Linked DNA regions of Homo sapiens: region 1 is linked to region 2. The links come from fine-mapping of genetic effects on gene expression. Tissue or cell type: esophagus muscle. Region 2 holds a variant in brackets; the other region holds the start of a gene. All regions are shown on one strand. Distances are between the middles of the regions.

Evidence for each region. PIP is the estimated chance that this variant, and not a neighbour inherited with it, causes the effect.
Region 1: it holds the start of PNLDC1, and the variant in region 2 is fine-mapped to the expression of PNLDC1 in esophagus muscle (GTEx, PIP 0.94). The same link has a PIP of 0.9 or more in sigmoid colon.

Annotation. Positions count from the first base shown.
Region 1 is chr6:159,797,068-159,805,175 of GRCh38, forward strand. It overlaps PNLDC1 (PARN like ribonuclease domain containing exonuclease 1), which reads left to right and starts at 3,209. Exons shown (of 19, transcript NM_001271862.2): 1 at 3,209-3,316; 2 at 3,705-3,762; 3 at 4,046-4,119; 4 at 6,204-6,243; 5 at 6,898-7,021; 6 at 7,482-7,570. The coding sequence starts at 3,241. MRPL18 (mitochondrial ribosomal protein L18) reads left to right here. Exons shown (of 4, transcript NM_014161.5): 3 at 220-451; 4 at 985-1,362. The coding sequence ends at 1,056.
Region 2 is chr6:159,708,851-159,716,958 of GRCh38, forward strand. It overlaps a transcript of SOD2 not described here and the pseudogene HNRNPH1P1. Among named protein-coding and RNA genes, the nearest start is that of WTAP, 15 kb to the right of the region's middle. The variant A/G (reference allele first, on the strand shown) is at 4,196.

The DNA.
Region 1 (8,108 bases), 88 kb after region 2:
TTCATGATACTTGAACTATTTAGTTTGTTATTATTGAGGATATTCTCATAAAGGCGGAGGAAAAATACTTTTCCCAAGCAAAATCCAAGTTAAATATGTTGAAGTAAATGAACCAAACACTGGATTGTTGAAAAATATTTAGTCATTTATTCACCTCAATTAATGTAACTTTAGGATACAGATTCTTCTGTGATTTTATTATCTTCTCACCCCATTTAGGTTGCGAGTTATAAGGACTCAGCATCATGTAGAAGCACTTGTGGAGCATCAGAATGGCAAGGTTGTGGTTTCGGCCTCCACTCGTGAGTGGGCTATTAAAAAGCACCTTTATAGTACCAGAAATGTGGTGGCTTGTGAGAGTATAGGACGAGTGCTGGCACAGAGATGCTTAGAGGCGGGAATCAACTTCATGGTCTACCAACCAACCCCGTGGGAGGCAGCCTCAGACTCGGTATTTTTGTTTTCATGTACTTATTGAAAAGGTATTGTGTTAATTCTTGGCATTAGATAACTTACATAATAATAACAGTTTTTACTTACCAAATACTTTCCATGTGTCAGACCCTTTGGTGAGTACTCAACAGTGTTACTTCATTTAATCCTCACATCAGTCCATAGGGTAGGGACTAGTACTCTCATTCTATACAGAAATAAACTGAGGCTTACTTGCCCAGAGTCAGTGTATGGTGGATTTCAAACCCAGGGTGACTGATTCTGTAGTCCATGATGTCAGCCACTGTATTTCCTGTTCATATATTGACATCTTGTCCATATAATATTTTGAAATGCTGCTGAACCTTGACATCTCTACATTTCCTTTTTACTTACATCATTATTAAGATCACTTTCTGAAAAACCGTTGTAGGCTGGGAAGTTAGCAAGAACAAATCAATTTATTTCTGTCTTTTGGAAGGTGAAAGTATTTTCAGCCTACTCGTGCTGCTGACTTAATCTTTTCCTTTTTTTTCTGATTTTCAAAACCAGATGAAACGACTACAAAGTGCCATGACAGAAGGTGGTGTGGTTCTACGGGAACCTCAGAGAATCTATGAATAAATGGAAGCATTAATTGTTTTGAACATGTAAATATAAATCTGTCAGCCACTACAGCCATCAAAAGAGAGCATCTGGAAGAACAGCCAGCTTGGAAGTTTTACAGCAATAATGTTGCAGTGGAATATTATTTGTAGTTAAGGTCATCCTCCTCCCCTTTCTGTTTTTTTAAATCAAGAACTACGTTCTGCCCCTCTCTTGGGCTTCAGAAGCATCTAAGAAAAGCAGTCATCAATTATAATTAACTTTCAAAGGGCAAGTCAGAAGTTGTTTATAAATTACAAAATAAAGGCATATTATGAACTCTTATTTTCTGGTTATATGACATTGTCTGAGCTCACTGTGGCAGTGGAGCACATATGAGGTTGATGTAAAGCACTTATTACTGTGTCTAGTTCATGGCGAGTGATCTCAGTGAATGACAGTTGTTTGCTGCTCGGAGTGTGGGTTGTTTTTTAAAATAGGAAATGTCAGTATCAATCTAATACTATAGAACAGTCAGTATGTGAAAATGAAAGGACCAAATGCCAACCTCACTTGGACTCTTGGTTCCCAACAGTAAGAGAAACAAATTTGAAAGAGGAAGGAGGTGGCATCAGGAGCTGAAAGCAGAGGTGGAAATGGTTGGGGTTAGTGGGCGCTCAATTTGCCATGAAGTGAACATTTTATTAGATAGGAGATGAAACTTGAAATGCATGCAAGTTAATCTAAAATTTGAGCTTGGGTAGATGGGAATCATGGCAGTTCTCTGAAAGGAGCTGATTAAGGTGTTAATTTTTGGCTATTTGATAAATGTGAGAAAAAACCTGTAGGCAGTTAAGGTGGCTTCTAGAGCATTGTTTTCCAGTTTTTTTAATGTATACCCCAATTAAATGTTTGTTTAGAAGTGAAATATGTTACTTCTGCCAATTTGAGTATTCAATGTGTTATTTTAAATGGAACACATCTGTATGAAGTATGATTTGTTCTGAGAGGTCTTCAGAATCAAATGGCTTAATAGTCCCCTTTTGCTTAATTAATGTCCCGGAGAGGCATTTAAAAGTATAATTGAAGATCGGATGCAGTGCCTCACACCTCTAATCCCACCACTTTAGGAGGCTGAAGCAGGTGGATCACTTGAGGCCAGGAATTCGAGACCAGCCTGGCCAATACGGTTTAACCCTATCTCTACTAAAAACAAAAATGAGTTGGGCGTGGTGGTGCATGCCTGTAATCCCAGCTGTTCAGAGGCTGAGGCGGGAGAATCGCTTGAACTCAGGAGGTGGAGATTGCAGAGAGCCGAGATGGCACCACTGCACTCCAGCCTGGGTGACAGAGTGAGACTGTCTCAAAAGGAAAAAATAAAGTATAACGGTAATGTTTTCTCCGCTAACCTTAAAGATTGATTTGAGCACCTCACTTTGAGGACCATAGTTCCAAAACGCTGTTCAAGTAGAAGCCTAGAATTCAAGGGAGGACACTGTAAGGAAGACCATGGACTAGTTGCACTGGAAACAGTAACAAAAGTAAAAATTAAGCTCACATGTATGTGATGATGTAGGTAGGGATTTCCGCAAGGAGTGAGTGCACGAGATAATCCCTGGGGACCAAGGATTCCTTCAATTTAATGGGCAGTTCTTGAGGCTTTGCAAAGTTTGATTGCAGGTGTGAAGACAGTGGTAAGGTGGACAGCAGAATGAGGAAAAAGATGTCCAGGGGCGTGGGAGAGGGAATGGGGACAGACATACTGGCAGTGATGGAGAAGTTGGGAAGAGGTGATTTAGAAGACCGTGAGCCGCAGCAAAGGATCTGCTTATTGCAGTTGCGTCCGGTGTTGTTCCTGCTCCGCTTTTCTGATTTCACCCTTTCTGGACTCTGTCTTCGTCTCCTGCCACGCCTCTTAACATTCTAAGTCCATGTAAATGACATTCTCACGTTAAGGGCTGCAAAGAAATTGCTGAGGAGCCAGGTAAACAGGCTTTGATTGCAATTGCAATCAAACCTCTGTAGCAAATCGTACAATTAAAACACCCGCAGGCAGGTGTGGGCGACGCCAGCAGCACACGGGGAAGCTGGGCACGTGGGGCGGAGGCAGCTGCCTGGTTTCCATGTGTGCGCCCTTTAAGACCCGGCGGCGCGACGGAAGCGCGTGGGCAGCACGTGGGCAGCACGTGATAGCGCTGGGCGACTCCGCGGAGCTGCACGGCCATGGACGTGGGCGCCGACGAGTTCGAGGAGAGCCTCCCTCTGCTGCAGGAGCTCGTCCAGGAGGCCGACTTCGTGGGTGAAGAGCCTGGGATTCGCGGCTGTGCCGGACAGAGCCCCTTGCCCCGGGCGAGCTTGAGGAGGGGGTGGCGGGACGGTTGCCAGGCCACAGGGCCTCAGAGAGGGCCTCGGGAAGGACAGGGGGGCTTCCTTCTCCAGCCCCGGGGCGGTGGGACTTTGAGCAGCAAGTACACTCCGAGCCCCACGTCCCTTGTTGGCCAGAGCCCCGTGCGCCCAGGTGCCTGGCTGCTCCTTGCCTTGGTTCCTCCATTTTCCCTTCCTGACCTCACTTGGCTTCTTGAGCGCAGAGGTGAGCGCGGGTGCCTTGGCCGCCTGCAGATCTACAGTGTGAGGAGTGCTGGCGATGTTCTGCACCCGAGGACTGCTATTTTTTGCCTTCCTGGCAGGTCTGGACATAGAGTTCACGGGCCTTCGTTCTAACCTGTCTGGGCCCCAGCAGATCAGGTAAAACTAAAGCTGTGTCCCCTCTGTATAAGAGCCTGGCCAGACCAGCACTGTTTCTGGCCAGCAGCCTGTTGGCATTTGGGGGGCAGGACGTTTTGTGTGGCTTGCTCCTACGTGTTGGAGGACCTTGCTTTTTTCTGTCCACTAAATGATGGTAGTGCTCCCTAGTTGTTGTAACAAGGAAAAAATCCTCCCCGGTTGCGAGTGGTGGTCCTGCCGCGGAGGCCATAGTGCCGGGATGGGATGTCATTGCTCGTGGAATGAGATGCCTGTTTGTTCACAGTCTTTTTGATTTGCCATCGGAGTGGTATCTAAAGACCCGTCAGAGTGTTCAGCAATTTACAGTCTGTCAGATTGGTGAGTTTAATATCAGCTGTTAGAGTTTTTCAAGAAGGTATTTTTATTGTCCTTGGATTTCCTACTGTAAAAACAGCTCTGAGATTTTTCAAGGATATTGAGTATCGTTTTGTATGCTTGTTTTGTGTTGGGCCATTGTATACATATGGAAATCAACACTTCGGAGCAAACCAAATTTAGCAGCATTGTTTCCGTGCTTAAATAAGTCAGTATTAAGGAACACTCACTGTTACTCTTTCAAGTAAAACTGTGTGTGTGCGATTTTTATTTTATTTTTTGAGACAGGGTCTTGCTCTGTCACCAAGACTGGAGTGCAGTAGCATAGTCTTAGCTCACTGCAGCCTAGACTTCCTGGGCTCAAGTGATACTAGCACGTCAGCCTCCTGAGTAAACTGGGACTACAGGCTCACCACCACACCTAGCTAATTTTTAAATTTTTTGTTCAGATGGGTTTTCGTCATGTTGGCCAGGCTGTTCTTGACTTCCTGGGCTCGAGCAATCTTTCTGCCTCTGCCTCTCAAAGTGATGGAATTATAAGCGTGAGCAACCACACCTGGCCTGTGATTTTTTTTTCTTAAGAAAATTTACACACAAAAATAATTTTTTTTAAGGTCATCTCAGTTTCAGAAACTTTTTTTTTTTCCTTGATGGGATTTGGAGATCTTTCTGTATCGGTTCATACAGATCTATTTGTTGATTTAGTTATTAGTTTATTTTCTGAGATGGAGTCTCGCTCTGTTGCCCAGGCTGGAGTGCAGTAGCGCGATGTGGGCTCACCGCAACCTCCACCACCCAGGTTCGGGTGATTCTCCTGCCTCAGCCTCCAGAGCAGCTGGGATTACAGGCAATTGCCACCAGGCCTGGCTAATTTTTGTATTTTTAGTAGCGATGGGGTTTCACCATGTTGGCCAGGCTGGTCAAGACAGAGCTGTTAACGGTTGCGTAATGCTGTTTCTTTTACAGCTACTCAATCCTGCTTTTGTAATGTGAAATTAGCTGTAGAGAATACATGAACAAATGAGCATGGCTCCATTCCAGTAAAATGTTATTGTATTTACAGAAACAGACCCTGGGCCAGATTTTACTTTTCTGGGTTTGTCTGTGCCCTCTCCCGCACCATTGGGTTTTTGCTGTGTTGCCCAGGCTGGGCTCAAACTTTTGGGCTCTGGAGATCCTCCAGTCTCAGCTTCTGAAGTAGCTGGGAGTGCTGCCACGCCCAGCCCCTGCTTTTACTATGAATGATGCTGAACGTGTGTGTGTTTTCCTCTCTATCCTGATCCTTTGCTACTTTTCTGTTATGGTTTTTTTTTTGTTCGTTTGTTTGTTTTTAATTATAAGACCTCTTTGAGAAGTATAGGAAACAGTTGTAGTTATGTTTCCATTGTTGTACCCAAATTTGTTTGGGGGGAAGGGGGACAGAGTCTTGCTCTGTTGCCCAGGCTGGAGTGCAGGGGCACGATCTTGGCTCCCTGCAACACCCTTGCCTCCCAGGCCCAAGCAATTCTCCTGCCTCAGCCTCCTGAGTAGCTGGGATTACAGGTGCGCGCCACCACACCTAGCTAATTTTTGTATTTTTAGTAGAGACAGGGTTTCACCATGTTGGTCAGGCTGGTCTCGAATTCCTGACCTCAAGTGATCCACCTGCCTAGGTCTCCCAAAGTGTTGGGATTACAGGCATAAGCCACCGCACCTGGCCTGAAGTCTTTTTTTTTTTTAACTTTGCATATGGTTTTCTTTGAGGGGGGAGGAATAGACATTTTAAATGAGTTAAATATATAAATCTTAATGGTTTTTGGTATTTTCTGTGGATAGTTTTAAAACTATGAGAATGTCATTTTAATATTTACTTCTGTATTTGAAGAACAGGCCACAATTAGATTTTAGCAAATTCAGTGTGAATTACAATTTGACATTTCTCATGCTTCCAGTCTGTCTTTTCTTTTTTGTCATTAAAGATGTTATCCTGTTGTACAGCCCACATAGTATCTGTGGGCGCAAAGTACTGTTTGAGTTGTTTTTGTCTTTGTAGTGAAATTCAGGTTGCTTTTCCTTGGCATTCATTCCCTCTACGGTCATTCTTCCAGGATTGTCTGTGTTTTCCGCTATTGAAGGAGAGGCAAACAAGTATGTATCAAGAGCTTCTGCAAACATAGGTGCTTCCCACCTATGTTCCACAGCTGCCACCTTCAAATTCTGCCTCAGGTGCCCCGATCACTTTTGCCCTGGATCTTCCGTATTCTCTCCTGTGTCTGTTCCTCCACTCACTCTGCCCTCTGCGGATTCCAGCTTGTCTTTGATGTCTCTCTGGAAGCAGTACCTTTCCCGCCAGCCTTGCTCTGTACCTTAAGTGCTCCTTTCCCCATTTCCATTGTCTCCAGTGTGCACCTATATTAATAAAAGCGCCTGACACAGTGTGGTGTAATGAAAGTGATGTTTAAACTACCTGACACAGTAGGCAGAAAGGATGCCCCAACTATCAGGATGCCTCCCCACCCCCCATGAGCAGTTGAGGGTGCCAGCCTGCACGCCCTAACCTGGCATCCCTGGGCAGCTTGTGGAGGGGCTGTCTCTGTGGTATACGCTGGCCCTGAAGGCAGGCTCTCTGCCTTTTTCATTTAGCACCCCCAGTGCCAATCATAGCTCCTGAAACACAGCAGACACTCGGGCACACTCAGATTCTTCTTGCCTAAAAGAAAGAGCCCACCCTGAAGCCAGCCCTGGGAGCCAGAGTTTTTTAAATGGTTGTGGCTTTTTCTCTGTATGTTTGTTTTATTATAGGTATATAGCCCATTCTTGTAACTTCTATCTCTTCCCTACAACGTTTGGGATTTTGGACTCAGAATTCTCCTTCCAGGCTTCCAGTGTTCAGTTTTTGAATCAGTATGGCTTCAACTATAACAAGGTATGGCATTGGAGGAGGGGAACGGGAATGTCTTTTGTTTGTTTCTGAGATGGAGTCTCGCTCTGTTGCCCAGGCTGGAGTGCAGTGGTGCAATCTTCGCCTCCCGGGTTCAAGTGATTTTCCTGCTTCAGCCTCCCAAGTAGCTGGGATTACAGGCACCCGCCACCATGCCCAGCTAATTCTTTTTGTATTTTTAGTAGAGACGGGGTTTCACCATGTTGGTCAGGCTGGTCTTGAACTCCTAGCCTCAGGCAATCCACCTGCCTCGGCCTCCCAAAGTGCTGGGGTTATAGGCATGAGCCACCGCACCCGGCCTGGGAATGTCTTACAAGTGATCTAGACGAACTGGCTTATACAGCCCGTCTCCTTTCCCCTTTCTACCTGTCCTCGTGAAATCAGGCACAGAGGATCCCTCTGACTTGTCTCCTTGTTCTGTTTGTTGTTCTGTTTCTGTCTTAAGTTTCTCAAAAACGGAATCCCATATATGAATGAAGAACAGGAGAAGAAAATTAGACACGATATCCTGACTGGGAACTGGAGAGTTCGCAGGTATGGCCTGTTTCTCCAGGTGCCTTTTTGTTTCCTTGTTGCTGTTGTCTGCATTTCCCGTGGGCGGGCGTGCCGTTTCCAGGAGTGTGGTGACCTCCATCCATGCTTGGCGGGGATGGCTTCAGCTGCCTGTGCAGCTGGCGCTGCTCTCCCTGTGCCCCAACTGAGAATGGCTTTCACCTGTCTCCATCATGTTCCACTCCCTAATGAACCTCTCACTGCGTTGAGTGTGAGTTTCAGTGTTTAAAAAGAAAAAGAAACTGACTCCTAATTTGGAACTCAAAGAAACAAGAATTCCATTCCAGTGCTAGAGGGGAAGAAATCGTTCTGTTGGACTTGCTGTGAGATGTTATGTTGATCCCCCATGTGATCTTCTGAGGGATTTTTCAAGGATATCTCTCGGGCAACCTTGACTGTGCCAATCATACTGGGCACTGACTTCAGATGTGTGCCTTGGTTAGGCTGTGTCTGCCCTGCTGTGCCTGACCCTGCTCCCCTAGGCCGGGACCTCTGCCTTTTTACTTTGGCTGTCTGTGCC
Region 2 (8,108 bases):
GCTGACTTCAAACTATACTACAAGACTACAGTAACCAAAACAGCATAGTACTGGTACCAAAACAGAGATATAGACCAATGGAACAGAACAGAGCCCTCAGAAATAATACCACACATCTACAACTATCTGATCTTTGAGAAACCTGACAAAAACAAGCAATGGGGAAAGGATTCCCTATTTAATAAATGGTGCTGGGAAAACTGGCTAGCCATATGTAGAAAGCTGAAACTGGAACCCTTCCTTACACCTTATACAAAAATTAATTCAAGATGGATTAAAGACTTAAATGTTAGACCCAAAACCATAAAAACCCTAGAAGAAAACCTAAGCAATACCATTCAGGACATAGGCATGGGCAAGGACTTCATGACTAAAACACCAAAAGCAATGGCAACAAAAGCCAAAATTGACAGATGGGATCTAATTAACCTAAAGAGCTTCTGCACAGCAAAAAAAACTACCATTAGACTGAACAGGCAACCTACAAAATGGGAGAAAATTTTTGCAATCTACTCATCTGACAAAGGGCTAATATCCAGAATCTACAAAGAACTCAAACAAATTTACAAGAAAAAAACAAACAACCCCATCAAAAAGTGGGCAACGGATATGAACAGACACTCCCCAAAAGAAGACATTTATGCATCCAACAGACACATGAAAAAATGCTCACCATCACTGGCCATCAGAGAAATGCAAATCAAAAGCACAATGAGATATCATCTCACATCAGTAAGAATGGCAATCATTAAAAAGTCAGGAAACAACAGGTGCTGGAGAGGATGTGGAGAAATAGGAACACTTTTACACTGTTGGTGGGACTGTAAACTAGTTCAACCATTGTGGAAGACAGTGTGGCGATTCCTCAGGGATCTAGAACTAGAAATACCATTTGACCCAGCCATCCCATTACTAGGTATATACCCAAAGGAATATAAATCATGTTGCTATAAAGACACATTCACACGTATGTTTATTGCGGCACTACTCACAATAGCAAAGACCTGGAGCCAACCCAAATGTCCAACAATGATAGACTGGATTAAGAAAATGTGGCATATATACACCATGGAATACTATGCAGTCATAAAAAATGATGAGTTCATGTCCTTTGTAGGGACATGGATGACGCTGGAAACCATCATTCTCAGCAAACTATCGCAAGGACAAAAAACCAAACACCACATGTTCTCACTCATAGGTGGGAATTGAACAATTGAACTTGGACACAGGAAGAGGAACATCACACACTGGGGCCTGTTGTGGGGTGGGGGGAGGGGGGCGGGATAGCATTAGGAGATATACCTAATGTAAATGTCGAGTTAATGGGTGTAGTACACCAACATGGCACATGCATACATATGTAACAAACCTGCACGTTCGTTGTGCACATGTACCCTAGAACTTAAAGTATAAATACATATATATATATATATATAAAATACAAAAATTAGCTGGGCGTGGTGGCACGTGCCTATAGTCCCAGCTACTGGGAGGCTGAGGCAGGAGAAATCACTTGAACCTGGGAGGCAAAGTTGCAGTGAGCCAAGATCGTGCCACTGCACTCCAACCTGGCGACAGAGTTAGACTCTGTCTCAAAAAAAGAGGAAAAAGAAAGACGACAGAGAAGCTGACCAAGAGTGATCAGAATAAATTATATTTCTCATTTACCCATTATACGGGATATACTAGACATCCCTCCCATTCTATTCAACTCCCATAAGTGCACTGCTTTTATATCTGGAGTAGCTCTTTAGTGCTCCTTCTCTACCTAACCAAGCTTTGACTGACAGTCACTGGAGTTTTCCTCCAGAACGTGGTCATATCCCCTCATACTGCTCTGATCACCCTAACCACCTCCATAACCACCAGTCACACTGCTCTGACCACCATAACCACCACTCATACTGCTCTGACCTCCATAACCACCACTCAGCTGCTCTGACCTCCATAACCGCCTCCACAACCACCACTCACATTGCTCTGATCACCATAACCACCTCATAACCACCACTCAGCTGCTCTGACCTCCATAACCGCCTCGACAACCACCACTTACATTGCTCTGATCACCATAACCACCTCCATAACCACCACTCACACTGCTCTGACCTCCATAACCACCTCCATAACCACCACTCACACTGCTCTGACCTCCATAACCACCTCCATAACCACCACTCAACAGCTCTGATCACCATAACCGCCTCCACAACCACCACTCACATTGCTCTGATCACCATAACCACCTCCATAACCACCACTCACATTGCTCTGATCACCATAACCACCTCCATAACCACCACTCACATTGCTCTGATCACCATAACCACCTCCACAACCACCACTCACATTGCTCTGATCACCATAACCACCTCCACAACCACCACTCACATTGCTCTGATCACCATAACCACCTCCATAACCACCACTCACACTGCTCTGACCTCCATAACCACCTCCATAACCACCACTCACACTGCTCTGACCTCCATAACCACCTCCATAACCACCACTCAACAGCTCTGATCACCATAACCGCCTCCACAACCACCACTCACATTGCTCTGATCACCATAACCACCTCCATAACCACCACTCACATTGCTCTGATCACCATAACCACCTCCACAACCACCACTCACATTGCTCTGATCACCATAACCACCTCCATAACCACCACTCACATTGCTCTGATCACCATAACCACCTCCACAACCACCACTCACACTGCTCTGACCACCATAACCACCTCCATAACCACCACTCAGCTGCTCTGACCACCATAACCACCTCCAATACCACCACTCACATTGCTCTGATCACCATAACCACCTCCATAACCACCACTCACACTGCTCTGATCACCATAACCACCTCCACAACCACCACTCACATTGCTCTGATCACCATAACCACCTCCATAACCACCACTCACATTGCTCTGATCACCATAACCACCTCCATAACCACCACTCAGCTGCTCTGACCACCATAACCACCTCCATAACCACCAGTCACACTGCTCTGATCTCCATAACCACCACTCACATTGCTCTGATCACCATAACCACCTCCACAACCACCACTCACATTGCTCTGATCACCATAACCACCTCCATAACCACCACTCACACTGCTCAGACCTCCATAACCACCTCCATAACCACCACTCACACTGCTCAGACCTCCATAACCACCTCCATAACCACCACTCGGCTGCTCAGACCTCCATAACCACCTCCATAACCACCACTCAGCTGCTCAGACCTCCATAACCACCTCCATAACCACCACTCAGCTGCTCTGACCACCATAACCACCTCCACAACCACCACCCACATTGCTCTGATCACCATAACCACCTCCATAACCACCACTCACATTGCTCTGATCACCCTAACCACCTCCATAACCACCACTCACATTGCTCTGATCACCATAACCACCTCCATAACCACCACTCACACTGCTCTGATCACCCTAACCACCTCCATAACCACCACTCAGCTGCTCTGACCTCCATAACCACCTCCATAACCACCACTCACACTGCTCTGATCACCATAACCACCTCCATAACCACCACTCACACTGCTCAGACCTCCATAACCACCTCCATAACCACCACTCAGCTGCTCTGACCTCCATAACCACCTCCATAACCACCACTCACACTGCTCTGATCACCATAACCACCTCCATAACCACCACTCACACTACTCTGATCACCCTAACCGCCTCCACAACGACCACTCAGCTGCTCTGACCTCCATAACCACCTCCATAACCACCACTCACAATGCTCTGATCACCCTAACCACCTCCATAACCACGACTCAGCTGCTCTGACCTCCATAACCACCTCCATAACCACCACTCACACTACTCAGACCACCATAACCACCTCCACAACCACCACTCAGCTGCATAACTAGACTGGTTGGGTAAGCCCATCTCTCCCATCATTTGCCTACCATAAGCACCACCACTTGCCCCTGCTGTAGATTCAAGAAAAGTTCTACATAGGTGTGTTCATAAACCCCCCTACTTGTTCCTATAGCATTTAAAAAGGTCTCCCTGTACCTGTGCTGCATATTAGCTTTGTCTTTTGCCATAGCTGCCACTGCATCTTCGTGAGCAGCAAACTCAACATCTGCCCTACCAGTAAACTCTGTCATCGTGTCCAATTTCA[A/G]TATGTACTCTCATGAGGTTAAGAGGTGAATAGAAATTATAACATTCTTAGTGGCTCTGTAAGGTAAACCCCTCGTGTGTACACAGTGCCCTGTGGTGCTCTGGAAACTGGACCCACTATCTCCGTATCTATGATCAGACATTCCTGAAAAACAGTAATTGCGGTCTTTTCCAAATCTATCAGACCTAAAGCCATATCCATCATTACAGCCACGATAGTCATCATAGCCTCTATACCCTCCACCATAGGGACCCTGCCTCATCTTTTCAAACCCAGCTCCTCTGCCAATGCTATTACACCTCAGCCAGCCCCTGGCCTATCACTGGGACCTGGCCACTGCACAGCCATGAGCTTCTGAGAGGGATCATAGTAGGTATGAACTTCAGCTTGGCTATTCTAGAAGATTTCAATGTACCTGTGCCCTATTCTTTCCCTGTGTTTCTTCAATGCCGTCTCAGCTATCTCCTGCGAAGCCAACTGCACAAAGGCTTCCCCTGTGCTTCTGCCCTGAAAGTCCACTCACAGTGTTATCCCATTTGGCACAATTTCCAACCCTGAAAAGAAATGAACAATCTCTTCCTTGGACAGCCAAATGGAAGTCCTCTAAGCCAGACGAAGCCATCGTTGGCAGTATCAGGACTATTCAGACCTGTGTGCTTCGATACCCAATCCATTTCAACACTATTAGACTTGAATACTTCAACGTATCTGTGTCCCATGGTTTCTCTGTCTTTAAAGCCAATTTCGCTTCATCTGCAGATTCAAGTTCAACAAATGCTTCACCACTTGGTCTGCCTTCTCCGGTGTAGATGAAACAAATACCTGATGTGCCATTTTGTATTTTGCAATCAGAGAAGTGCATCACTTCATCAGCTGAGCAGGACCAGGATAGGCCCTGGACCTTCACCACGAACCCCTCCCTGCCTTCCGTGCTCAGCATCGTGGCGACTGTTGAGCTCTTGGTGGCAAGTTTGGCGGAATGCAATTTTGGTGTAGTGGGCAATTATCCTCCTTCTGCCTTCAAATGGGCTATAGCAAGATGACAAGCAGAACTACTTCTGCTCACATAAGCAAGTGATCACATGAGCACACCGGCTTTACCTCTAATCTCTGCTGCCATCTGACTTCTCTGTGCCTCTGCTGTCCCATCTGTCACATAAGACTAATACAGGCCCTCACCTCCCTAGACGTCGGGTTGTGAGGACCAAAGAAACATCATCTCTGCCTATACCTTTTCCTCTATTCTTTTTTCCCTCCAGAAACCCAATGACCTTGGACTTCCCTGAGTCCCACACTGGCTGACATATTACATACGGATTCTTCCCTCCAAGGGAAGATAAGCCTAGCTTCCATCGGGAACAGACCCGCACATTCCATCAGTCCCTTCTCCTGACTGTACACTCCCTACTTCACTCCCCAGGCAGGGCCTGGGTAGTGAACTTTTAAGAACCAACACTGATTTGACTTCCACCAGCAGGCTCAGCAGCACAGCCTCTAGATGTTTTGCTCGTTTCATCGCCAGGCGGTACTCTTTCCCACGGTACTATAAAGCAATTCCTGTTTTTCACTTTGTTGAAAAGGTGTGCCAAATGACTGCAATTCTGTGTGCCCAGATTATGATAAGCCTACCCTGGTGTCCTGCCTAACTAATCACATCACAGCCCACTGGCATTTTCATCAGAAGCCTTTGCTTGAGTGGATGGGGGTAGGCTGCAGATTCTTCTCTGTTGTCTGGCTGGAGTAGAGCAGTTACTGTCTAAAGGTTTTCTGTCTTGGTAGACTGCCTCCTTTCTTGGACCTTTAGTTATACATAAGAGGCTTTTGCTGGTGGCTGTTTTTGTCTGTGCTTGTTGATGTGTACAGATTGCTGGCTTCTGGGATATATGAGGCAAAAATGAAACACAGGGAGTCATTCCTGTGTCAGTCCTTGGGTCCTGAAGTCCATAGCCAGTTTGCCTTTCAGTCTTCTTCTGCTTGTTTTACATATAATATTCAGGATTTTTAGCCATACTTGGTGAGAGGAACATGGAAAAGTATGTCTAGTCCATTTTCCCAGGAGTGGAAATTTCCCAGACTTGTGTTTAGAAAGGGCTTGTTGTGTAGGAGAGAGTTTGGATGGGAAGCAAAGATGGGTGGCAGAGGACCAATTGGGGGGCCACTGTTAGTCGACAAGAAAAGCTGAAGACCTGGATTGGCCAGTGGCACTGGGACCCAAATGAGTGGGATAGAGAAAACTATTTACAGGTTAAGAAAAACAGGGAAGAGCAACAAAAACATGTCTAACAGGAAGTCAGTGTGGTCAACAGTAGAACCATTGCTTAAGGCCCAGTGCTCTCCTCTGGCAGAAGAATGGATTTACAGTTTGTCAACAGTCACATAGTTTTTGAATGGACTGTCTCCTGTCCTAGTGGGTCTTTAATTTGTGGGGAACAAAAAACCGTCCTTTTAAAAACTGAAGAGATTTGACTGAAGGTTTGACCAAACAGGATCTTACCGTTGCATCCATAAGGTTAAACACTATTAGCAAGCAACAGAGGCAAACAGAATAGTATTTTGAAAAGTTCTGAATATAGGCCAGGCATGGTGGCTCACGCCTGTAATCTTAACACTTTGGGAGGTCAAGGTGGGAGAATCACTTGAGCCCAGGAGTTTGAGACCAGCCTGGCCAACATGGTGAGACTCCGTCTCCATAAAAAATGCAAAAATTAGCTGGGTATGGTAGTTCACACCTGTAGTCCCAGCTACCTGGGGGGCTGAGGTGGGAGTATCGCTTGAGCCCAGGAGGTGCAGGCTGCAGTGAACTGAGATGACACCACTGGTCTCCAGCCTGGGCAACAGAGCTAGACCCTGTCTCAAGGAAAAAAAAAAAAAAAAAGTTCTGAAAATAAAATCCTTCAAGACCCTTATATTTTTATTGTAGTTAGCTTTTTGTCTTATAAAAGTTTGGTTTTCTGGAAATGAATAATGACTTTTAAATTTTTGCTTTATTGTGAAACAAGGGCTATGGACATCATAATGTAAAAACAACAACAATAAAGCAAAGTGTCACAGAAAAACCTAGTTTTGCTGGCACCTCTCCATTTTATTTCACTTGCTGATCATGTAAATGCCCTTCCTCTCTAAGTTAGAATGTGTTTGGCTATGGGTAACAGGAATCCTGATGAACAGTGGTTTTAAATATAAGGACATATCTGTTTTACCTAATAAAAAGTACAAGAACTGGCAGTCCCTTGGTGAGTCTGGAAGATTAACAAGGTCATCCCGGACCCAGGGACTTTCCATTCTTGACTCTGAATTCCCAGCAGCCTGCTTTCATTTTCCAACTTGTTGCCTCATCGTCACAAGATGTTTCCTATAGGTGCAAGCAGCACAGCCTCTCACAGCCTAGTAAGAGACAACAAGGAAGGGAGGGGGAAAACATTTCACCTCATGTGCCTCTCCCCGGAAGGAAAATTTTTCTCAGAAGCCCCGAGAGATTTCCTCTGATCCCAGCCAGAACTGCTCAACTGGCCAACTCTGCCTGCAAGAAGACTGAGCACCATCACTATGTGGTAAAGACCATGACAGCCATGCTTGCCTTAGACCAGCAGTTCTCATCAAGGGCATGACGGGAGGGGGCAGTATTGAAAATATAGAAAGGGACACTTTCAGCTGTCACATATACAGAGAGGTGCTATTGGCATCTAGTGGGTTGGTGTGGGGATGCTAAATGTCCTAAAATGCACAAGATACTTTTCACACACACACAAATTGTCTTGTCCAAAATTCCAGTAGCACACTTGTTGAGAAACACTGGCTTACACCAGCCATAATTCATCTCCTGGCCTGAAGATACTATGACTCAAACACAATTTAGAAGTTCCTAGATTGTGCAAGAGGAGGAACATGGCTCCCAGTAGTGTGTGCCACAATA